Linked DNA regions of Homo sapiens. The protein of the gene in region 2 purifies or fractionates together with the protein of the main gene of each other region. This does not show direct contact. Each region holds a gene or a part of one and is shown on either strand. Other genes may lie near its edges.

The links.
Region 1: the proteins of ANOS1 (region 2) and NMNAT1 purify together in Homo sapiens (affinity purification with mass spectrometry; one large-scale study listed by BioGRID and IntAct). This does not show direct contact.
Region 3: the proteins of ANOS1 (region 2) and ZNF346 purify together in Homo sapiens (affinity purification with mass spectrometry; one large-scale study listed by BioGRID and IntAct). This does not show direct contact.

The regions. Positions count from the first base shown.
Region 1 is NC_000001.11:9,967,402-9,971,054, reverse strand, and holds part of NMNAT1 (nicotinamide/nicotinic acid mononucleotide adenylyltransferase 1), read right to left. Parts: exon of another isoform or gene 3,597-3,653; intron 1-3,596.
Region 2 is NC_000023.11:8,532,985-8,536,637, forward strand, and holds part of ANOS1 (anosmin-1 isoform 1 precursor), read right to left. Parts: intron 2,828-3,653; coding exon 2,607-2,827; intron 1,477-2,606; coding exon 1,335-1,476; intron 70-1,334; coding exon 11-69; 3' UTR 1-10. UniProt on the Homo sapiens protein: Has a dual branch-promoting and guidance activity, which may play an important role in the patterning of mitral and tufted cell collaterals to the olfactory cortex. Chemoattractant for fetal olfactory epithelial cells.
Region 3 is NC_000005.10:177,050,086-177,053,738, reverse strand, and holds part of ZNF346 (zinc finger protein 346), read right to left. Parts: intron 3,037-3,653; coding exon of another isoform or gene 2,989-3,036; coding exon 2,803-2,988; intron 1-2,802.

The DNA.
Region 1 (3,653 bases), on a different chromosome or scaffold from region 2:
TGCTCAGACACATAAGCAAACCCAAGTGAGATCAACCAAACCTGGCTCAGATCGTCAAGCCAACAAGCTGACCCTAGTCTCAAAAACAAAAAATTAGTGTTCATTATCATATGTCACTCAAGTTTTGTGATTGCACTATTGTGGCCACAGTTAATTAATACAACAATATTATCATCTACCAAATACAGCATTTTTGCCTTTTAGTCAACATGATAGTAACATCATAACTTTCCACTAAATAATAGAATATAATTTACAAACCTCTTTTTCATATCAGTTATTCCACTGATCCTTCCATAACCCTAATGAAGTAACATAAGGCATCCAATTTTAGGTTTTTATTAAAATTTCTTTTTTTTTTTTTTGAGACGGGAGTCTCACTCTGTTGCCCAGGCTGGAGTGCATTGGCGCGATCTCAGCTCACTGCAAGCTCCGCCTCCCAGGTTCACACCATTCTTCTGCCTCAGCCTCCCGAGTAGCTGGGATTACAGGTGCCTGCCACCACACCTGCCTAATTTTTTGTATTTTTAGTAGAGACGGGGTTTCATCATGTTAGATGGTCTTCATCTCCTGACCTTGTGATCCGCCTGCCTCAGCTTCCCAAAGTGCTGGGATTACAGGCGTGAGCCACTGCGCCTGGCCTAAAATTTCTTATTCAACTAATTCATATATATAGATCTAGAACATCACAGGGTAAAAAAGGCCCTTAATGAAAACCAACAGCCATCAATCATATTCCACTCATCATCCCTTCCATCCAACCACTTTTAACTTTTTCAGCTATTTCTTCTGGTAGTTTCTACCATAACTCTACATTATGTGCTTATAATGCCATTTCTTAATTTATCCAACTATAACAGTGCCCATTGACTTTATGATCTATAAAGATTAGCCCTCATACCCTTTGACTACCTTCTCCCAAACTGCCCAATATAGTTTATCTCCAGACTATGTTGAAAATCATCTTCTCTCACAACTTCAAAGGCATTACTTCTAGATTCCAATGTTAATAGCATGAAATCCAAAGCCACTTCTAATTCCGGAGCTTTTGAATGTCATTTTTTTCCTGTCTTGAAGCATGTAAGGTCTTCTCTTTGTCCGCAGTGTTCTGAAATTTCACAGTGCTGTCCTCTAGTGCAGCTTTGTTTCTATCCATCATGCTGAGCACAGGGCAAGCAGGTCCTTTCAGTCTGGAAACTTGTAACATTCAGTTCTAGAAAATGTCCTTGAGTTCTTTCATTGATGATTTTCTGCCTCCCATTTTATCTGTTCTTTTGAAATGTCTATTATTTATTTATTTTTTTGAGACAGAGTCTCCCTCTCTCACCCAGGCTGGAGTGCAGTGGCACGATCTCAGCTCACTGCAACCTCCACCTCCCAGGTTCAAGCAATTCTCCTGCCTCAGCCTCCCAAGTAGCTGGGACTACAGGCATGCACCACCACACCCAGATAACTTTTGAATTTTTAGTAGAGATGGGTTTCACCATGTTAGCTAGGCTGGTCTCGAACTCCTGGCCTCAAGTGATCCACCCACCTCAGCCGCCCATGAACCACTGTGCCTGGCCTGAAAATGTCTATTATTTAGAGCTGAAGCATCTAATCATTTTTTCTGTATTTTCCACCTCCTGCCTTCATGCTCTAATTTCCTGATAGCCTCAACTTCATCCTCCAATCTGCCTAGTTTTCACTTCTGCCATTACACTCTTAATTTCCAAGAGCCCTATCCTCTGAATACTCCTGTTTATGGTATTCTACTCATTTCCCCAACAGATTATCATCTCTATTTCTCTACCAATATTCATGATATATTTTAAAGTTTCTTCAAAAAGAGCTGATGGGACAGGCTGAGTGGGTAGGTAGGGCTTGTGCACAGGGGCCATAACTGTTCAGTAACCTGTCAGTACCGCAGGTCTTTTTGCTTGGATTAGTCAGACTCTACAAGAAAGTATCCTACAATTTCCCGCCTATATAACAGAAGAGTTAAGAGCCTATGCTCTGATATTAGGCTGCCTGGCTTCAAATTGCAGCTCCAACGGCATGACCTTGGGCAACCTAACCCTAACTTAACCTTCCTTTTGTGCCAGGTTTTTTCTTTGGCTTTTTTTTTTTTTTTTTGAGACAGAGTCTCGCTCTGTCACCCAGGCTGGGGTGCAGTGGTACGATCTCAGCTCACTGCAACCTCTGCCTTCCAGGTTCAAGCAATCCTCCCTGCTTCAGCCTCCCAAGTAGCTGGGATTACAGGCACGTGCCACCACACCTGGCTAATTTTTTTTTTTTTTTTTTTGAGACAGAGTCTCGCCCTGTCGCCCAGGCTGGAGTGCAGTGGCATGATCTCGACTCACTGCAAGCTCCGCCTACTGGGTTCATGCCATTCTCCTGCCTCAGCCTCCCGAGTAGCTGGGACTATAGGTGCCCGCCACCACTCCTGGCTAATTATTTTTTGTATTTTTAGTACAGACGGGGTTTCACCATGTTAGCCAGGATGGTCTTGATCTCCTGACCTTAAGTGATCCACCTGCCTCGGCCTCCCAGAGTATTGGCATTACAGGCATGAGCCACAGTGCCCACCTTGTCCCAGTTTTTAATCAATCTTAAAAAGGAGAAAATAATACTACCTACCTCCTGATTGTTGTGAGGATTAAATGAAACAATACAGATCCAAGACATAGAACTACATTTGGCAGGCCAGGCGCGGCGGCTCACGCCTGTAATCCCAGCACTTTGGGAGGCCAAGATGGGCAGATCACGAGGTCAGGAGATCGAGACCACCCTGGCTAACATGGTGAAACCCCATCTCTACTAAAAACACAAAAAAATTAGCCAGGCGTGGTGGCGGGCACCTGTAGTCCCAGCTACTCGGGAGGCTGAGGCAGGAGAACGGCGTGAACCCAGGAGGCGGAGCTTGCAGCAAGCCAAGATCGTGCCACTGCACTCCAGCCTGGGCAACAGAGCGAGACTCCATCTCAAAAAAAAACAAAAAAAAAAACTACATTTGGCAAATAGCAAACATGCTATGAATATAGCTATTATGAATGTTGCAAATTATGTTACTAGAATTGTCTTTTGTTTTTTGATTTTTGAGACAGTATCTCACTCTGTTGTCCAGGCTGGAGTACAGTGGTACAATCTCAGCTCACTGCAACCTCCATCTCCCAGGCTCAAGTGATCCTTCGACCTCAGCCTCCCAAGCAGCTGGGACTACAGGCATGCACTGGCTAATTGTTTTTTTGTATTTTTTGTAGAGATGGGGTTTTGCCATATTGCCCAGGCTGGTCTCAAACTCCTGGGCTCAGAATCTCGAAGCGAACCTGTCCACTTTGGCCAATTCCAAAGTGCTGGGCTTACAGGTATGAGCCACTGTGCTCAGCAAGCAATTTTTTTTTTAATCAACAAAACATCAATTTCAAATGGTTTAATTTACAATTGCTATTCTATTCAATCTGTTTTTTTCCCAGAGGATTTTCTTTCTGGAACTCTCCTCCTCTTATCCAGATGAAAAATCTCTATTTGTGAAGCTATTATTCTGAAAACTTCTTCATCTCTTTCCTGGGTTAGATCCCCTATTTATTTCTCGCTTTGCTTTCTAATCTTTCTGGAGCGTATCCTCAAGCGTTTCATGATAAAGGGTTGATCTCTCATACACCCTTTATCAT
Region 2 (3,653 bases):
TTTGAACAGTTTAGTATCTTTCTGGAGAAGGCTTGTAATGATGTGGATGACGATGCTTAAGATGAGATCCTAAAAAGTGACAAAATATGTCAGTCACATCCATTTGTATGTATCAAATAAATGATAGAATTACCTTTATTTGTAGAAAAAGCACGAGACCCTGGCAAATGTTCCTTCCTATGACCATGTCTTTCCTATTCTGAATCTGAATGTACAACCACACTCTTTCTCTCCTTTTCCTGTTTTTCTCTTCCTCTTTGATGTCTTCCCAAACTATAAAATAACAAGAAAAAGAAGACAAGCTCCTTTCCTTAAGCTCACACTTATCCAATCAAACCATAATCCTTTTTTATTTGCTCAAAGAAGTTTAAAAATTATCAAATACTTCTGTTAAAAGGAATTTCTATGAAGGAATATCAGAAAAGCATTTATCTGACAAAAATTTTAGAGGCTATCAAGCTCTCCCATTGTGATAGTTTTTGTTTTTCTTCAAATTATAAGCATACCAAGTTATCAATTATAAGCATACCAATCTATCATTTAAAAAAATCAGAGTTAAAACTATGACTAATTCTCAATGTTTTGTCCACACACTAGTCATCAGACACTTTTTTAAAAAATTTAAGCTAGAAAATAAAGTAAACGAAGTACATAATTTAAAAATCAGCAAGAGGCTGTTTTGAAAATCTAGGTGACAATTTTCTTTTTAAATTTTACTTGATTTAGCAATAAATGAAGTAGGTGGACTTGGGTCATATCATGAAGAAAATTCATAATATTTATTACAGTAATATCTATGTAACAAGAACATAAGTTCCTTAGCAAAATATTATTTCCTATATTGTGATATATGAAAATCTTGATTTAAAAATATTTCAGATATGAGACTACAGATTTTTTTCCCATATGTATTTATGGTTTAAAAGACAAGGAAAAAAGCATGCATTACATAGGGGAAAATGCAAGGAAGGAAAAAAAAAACAAAGGAAGGATAGAGGAAAGGAGAAAAGAAGAGAGGGAAGAATGAAGGAGGGAGGGAGAGAGGATGGAGAAAGGAAACAAGGAAGGAGCAAAGAAAGGGAGAAAAGCGGGGAAGAGGGAGGGAGGGAGAAAAAGAACAATTAAGCATCAACTATGCAATGTATACTACAGGTGCCTGGAATAGAATCTAGTAAGTCGGTACAAACAGGGAGAAAGAATTTCAGATGATGACAATTTCCCTATCTCATAGAAACCTGTACTAGTGTATTTATTTGTTTTCATTTTCCAGCAAGATTTTTCTCTATGTCCACAAGACCTGACAGGATGGCTTAATGCCCTGGCACCCCACTCACTGTGTGCTGAAGAGGGTGGGAGCTCCGGCGTCCGGAACGTCTTGATGGTGGCCGGCCCCTCCCCTCCTGGGGTCAGCACTTGCACTTCCAGTCGGTAAAGAGTAGATGGTCTCAGATTGGGCACTGTTAGGACATAATGATCCTAAGGGGACAACATAAAAGAGCATGCTCACCGACAACCTTTCAGAGACAACATGCAATGCACAGAGAGCCTAGAACAGTTTTTCCCCCACTGGAGAATATCATACACAGGCAAGTTTGGTTGCTTTGTAAAGGCATAGTTTAATTTATAGACTATTTCTCATTTGTGGGGGTTCTCTGCCATATGGTTTCTTAGCACCTCACTCAATTCTTGGCAGCCTAAGACACTTGGCAGAGTTAAAATATGCTGAGGTGCCAGTTCTCAGGGCTCACTCCTGGGATTTTATTTATTTTTTTAATTCCTTAACGTAAAACTTTCCCATGGTTTAAAGTCTTCAGCTGCACATCTTGTGATGTGAACTCTTGATAGTCCAAATTTCAGTGAATGAGCCAACTGTTTTTCTTAAAACACAGTATCTGTCAATGCCCATAACTGAAAATGTTTATTTTTATGCCAACATATTCTTCTCAAAACTCAATAAAACCTAGTACATTTATAGAATAACTACTCTCTAATTCCATGGAATTTTTCCTTCTGAGATTTAAGTTGTGTTTCTTTCCCTCTCTGCCCCTCTTTTTGGATTTTGTAACGGTAGTTGGCTATTCTAAGGGCATTTTCAGAGAGGGTAAAATCCCACACATGATTTTTTTTTTTTTTTTTTGAAGCCAAGGAATTAAGTGGCCTGGAAGACAGGCCAACTCATTACAGCCTCGAGCCAAATTTGAAGTTGCGGGGAAGACGGACAAACAACAAGCTTCTTTTAGCTATTCCTGCCCTCCCCAATTCAACACTTCAAACAGGGCATGTTCACTTGGACCAGAGAGACATGAGGTTAACAAAGATAGAAGAAAATGGCTCAATCACTTATATACAAGATAGGGTAAGGTCTTTTCATGAGTTGGCTCTAGCCATCAAACTTTATCTAGATGGCAGCTTATGCTACTTCTTAGCTATGCAGTCACATTTGTGATGTGTTAATGCTTGCAAAAGATACACTCAGAAGAAGAAAATGCAAAAATAAGACTCAATAGTGCAGCACACAGAATGACAGAGGTAGCCACCTCTGAAGGTCAGTAAAAAGGAGCAGTAGATACCAATGACACAGACATAGTACAAGAGGTGGGACCTACGGAAGGCAGGATCTGGGACTGTGAAATAATGCTGTTGGGTAGGCTGTTCTGTCTGCTTTCCGTAGTGACCTCAGCCCAAGTCACTTGAAACCCAGTCATGGGCTGATAGAGATTGGCCTTGGCCATCTTCCAAGAAAAGTGACCGGTGATGTTCACATCCTGGACGATGAATGAAGCAGAAAGGTTCTCAGGCTTAGCTAGCACCTTAGAAAGAACATGACCTGCAGCAATGCAAGAAGGAAAACCAGGATTAGGCGACTGGAGAAGGTGTGCCCAAGGGATCCATTGTAGGAATTTTCAGCGGCCAGTCTATGGGATGATATTAATAGAAGCAATGTGACCTTGTTCTTTAAACATGGGTTCAGACAATCACCCCTTTGACATATGGGGATAGGTTGAGTAGGAATCTCCTCACTCCAACTTTGTACTAAATGCTTCTTCCAGTCTTTTGGGGATCATTTTTAGAATGCTCTTTTGAAGATGGAGGCAGGAGAGCAGTTTAGACCCTGGCAAGACTTAACTATTTCTTAAAGAATAGCATTGACTGCAGTGAGAAGGTAAATATTAAAGCTGTTAGAAGAGTTATTAAATCCGAAGCTTTTTTTTTTTTTTTTTTTTTTTTTTTTAAAAGGTGAGATCTTGCTATGTTGCCCATGTTGGTCTGGAACTCCAGGGCTCAAGTGATTCTCTCATCTCAGCCTCTCAAAGTACTGGGATTTCAGGCATGAGCCGCCATGCCTGGCCAAATCCAGGGCATTTAAAAGACTTTTTCCCACTGCAAGACAGGGACATTGGCAAGGAGATGGGATGGAAGGTACAGATGTGAGGTTTGCCAGGTTGGCATGGAAAGTGTGTGAGTATAACCCACGCAGCAAAGGGGTGGGAAAATAATGAAATAATTATATCAAACTTTCCCAAAACACAAGCGGTATCTAAATGTTTGCCTTCATTTCCAAAGGGATAACATTACTATCAAAGGACATCTTTCCAAGCCTGTTAGGCTTTAAAATAACACATTCATTCCTACATCTCTTCCCTCCACATTGG
Region 3 (3,653 bases), on a different chromosome or scaffold from region 2:
AATACAGTTGGAATGCACAGTAAAAAGGCAGCAAATATTTTCTCCCAATGAATTCATAGCAAACAAGAACACATGTAAGAAAAACTCATCAAGGTCGATATTTTTTTCCCTCTCTTAACAGTATAATATTCATGAAAACTGAATTTCTTCCAGGTCTTTTAAAATTATCCTTATTGTATTAGAAATGGTCCAGTCAACTTTAAGGAATGTTCATTTTAAAACAGCATTAAAAGTACCAAAATACACAAATACTTTGGGCAAGACTTAAATGCATACTTGATAACAGCAGGCTGGGTGTAACGGCTCATGCCTGTAATCACAGCCCTTTGGGCGGCCAAGGTAGAAGGATGACTTGAACCCAAGAGCTCATGACCAGCTTAGGCAACATACAGAGACCCTGTTTTTTTTTTTTTTTTTTTTTGAGATGAAGTCTTGCTGCTCTTTTGCCAGGCTGGAGTGCAGTGGCGCGATCTTGGATCACTGCAACCTCCACCTCCCGGGTTCAAGCAATTCTCCTGCCTCAGCCTCCTAAGTAGCTGGGACTATAGGCGTGTGTCACCACGTCCAGCTAATTTTTCTATTTTCAGTAGAGACTGGGTTTCACCATATTGGCCAGGATGGTCTCGCCCTCTTGACCTTATGATCCACCTGCCTTGGCCTCCCAAAGTGTTGGGATTATAGGCGTGAGCCACTGCATCCAGCAAGAGACCCTCTTAAAAAAAAAAAAGGTAAAAACAAGGAATTCATCCTTTACCAATGAGTGGTGAATGGATCCTGCAAGTCAGCAGAAGATTTCCATGCTTTCTCTCACTCTACAGATGTTCCTTGACTTACAATGGGGTTACATCTAGATAAACTTATTACCAATTGCTGCCTAGCAGTGCAAGAGAAGTACAGTTTCTACTCAACATCTATTGCTTTCACACCATCGTAAAGTTGAAAAAAATCATAAAGCTGAACCATAGGAAGTTGGGGACCATGTGTACGTGTAGTTTTAGTAGTTTTTCTTAGTACCAGTATCTCCTTAACATAACCACAACCAAAGAATGGGGGAGGCAAAACTTTAATGTAGGGGTCTAAATTCTGCTGATAGGAAGCAACCTTTTCTCTCTCAGGGGTTCACCTTTGTGGAGGTACAAAGTAAGAACTATCAGAACATGAGATTCTGATCTAATCCGCTAAGGGTCCTTGGCCCAAATCTGGCTTGCAGACAGGTCTGACTTACACAGGGTTTAAAAATAGTTTTTTTTTTTTTTGGCTGGGCTTGGTGGCTAATGCCTCTAATCCCACCACTTTGGGAGGTCATGGCGGGTGGATCACTTGAGGTCAGGAGTTCGAGACCAACCTGGCCAACACGGTGAAACTCTTGTCTCTACTAAAAATACAAAAAAAATTAGCCGGAAATTAGCCATGTGGGGTGGCACATAACTGTAATCCCAGCTACTCAGGAGGCTGAGGCATAAGAATCGCTTGAACACAGGAGGCAGACGTTGCAGTGAGGTGAGATGGTGTCATTGTACTCCAGCCTGGGAGACAGAGTGAGACTGTCTCAAAAAAAAAAAAAAATTGTTTTTTTGATACATGTTCTCGCTCTCACTCAGGTTGGAATACAGTGGCACAATCATATCTCACTTTAGCCTTGACCTCCTGGGCTCAAGTTATCCTCCCACCTCAGCCTTCCCAAGGTGCTGGGACTACAGACATGCGCCACATGCCCAGCTAATATTTAAAATTTTTAGTAGAGATGGGATCTCACCATGTTGGCCAGGCTGGTCTTGAACTCTTAGGCTCAAGTGATCCTCCTACCTTGGCATCCCAAAGTGTTTGGATTACAGCATAAGCCACTATGCCTGGCTGGGCTTAAAAATTTTTTAATTTAGTTACACATTTAAAAATCAGAGGGGCCGGGTGCAGTGGCTCACGCCTGTAATCTCAGCACTTTGGGAGGCCGAGGCGGACGGATCACGAGGTCAGGAAATCGAGACCATCCTGCCCAACATGGTGAAACCTTGTCTCTACTAAAAATACAAAAATTAGCCGGGCGTGGTGGTGTGTGCCTGTAGCCCCAGCTACTCGGGAGGCTGAGGCAGGAAAATCGCTTGAACCCAGGAGGTGGAGGCTGCAGTGAGCTGAGATTGCGCCGCTGCACTCCAGCCTGGGTGACAGAGGGAGACTCCATCTCAAAAAACACAAACGCAAAAACAAAAACAGAGGGATTTCTATATAAATCTGGCTTTCCAGAGTCTTTTGAAAACCTGAAAGAGGGCTGGGCGCGGTGGCTCACGCCTGTAATTCTAGCACTTTGGGAGGCCGAGGTGGGCGGATCACAAGGTCAGGAGATCGAGACCATCCTGGCTAACATGGTGAAACCCCGTCTCTACTAAAAATACAAAAAAATTAGCTGGGCATGGTGTCAGGCACCTGTAGTCCCAGCTACTCAGGAGGCTGAGGCAGAAGGATGGCATGAACCTGGGAGGTGGAGCTTGCAGTAAGCCGAGATCGCGCCACTGCACTCCAGCCTGGGTGACAGAGCAAGACTCTGTCTCAAAAAAAAAAAAAAAAAAAAAAGAAAAGAAAACCTGAAAGATATGGTAACAGCTGAGTAGGAATGGCATTCACTCTTCAGCTGACCATATCCCCTTCCTGGCTCTCATTTTAATTTCTCATCTGGCTTCTGTAGCCATCTGAGTTCGCAAACCCTACTTACAAGACCTAAGGAGGAAAAGCACAACGTCAGCTGGTCCGGGTAGCCCCAGTGGCCAAACCCTGGTCCAGCTCTGGGTGTGAGCTAGGCCCCCTCACCTGGAAAGTCAGTGACAGCAGGGTCCGCCAGCCGCCCATAGCGTGCCATTAGTTTGAGCTTGGTCTCCTGTTTTCTGTGTTTCTTGCCCACATAATGTTGTTGAGCCATGACAGGGTCGTTGAAAGTTGCATGGCAGAGGCTGCAGAACTTGTCTGGGTCTATCATCTCTCTATTCTGGTGCAAGGCTAAGGTGGAGGCCACAAGGAAAGGATTTGTAAGGCGTTTTGACAGAGCTGCAGTGAGAGAGTTCAAACAGAAACAATGAAAAAACCCAGAAGGTGTCAGGCTTTTGAGTATGCTGAATAGAAAGGGCTGTGACACCAGTTAATCCTACTGCAGATGTGGCACTGCCTGTGTGAGTCACACAGGTGAATGCATTCTCTAATTGGGAAACCTGGGAAGATTTGAGGGAGCCCAAAGACTGGCTATTTCATTCAGCGGCTTTAACTACTTTAAGCCCACAAATCCTGGTGGTTCTCATATTCTTAGGAGGCCCTGAGCTTCTCCTGTCAGGCTGCCAAGTTACAATAGACTAGAGATGCACACTTGCACTCTTGCAGGGATACCTCAGTACTTCCCAGAACTTCACAGCAAGTGGGACACGAAGTTTGGGAGTTTTATTCTCATCCTTAAAGTAATACAGTTGCAGAGCTGGGAACAAATGCACAGATACAGAAATTGAGGCTTGAGTTCCTGGAGCTCATACAAGGTCATTCAGAAAAGGTAACCATACTAGGGATGCCTTTTAGGCTACATTGCATATTATAGGCTGAGTAGAGAGAAAAGAGGACCATTAACATTTAGTTATGCGTTTTGCTCACATCTGTAATCCTAGCACTTCAGGAGGCCA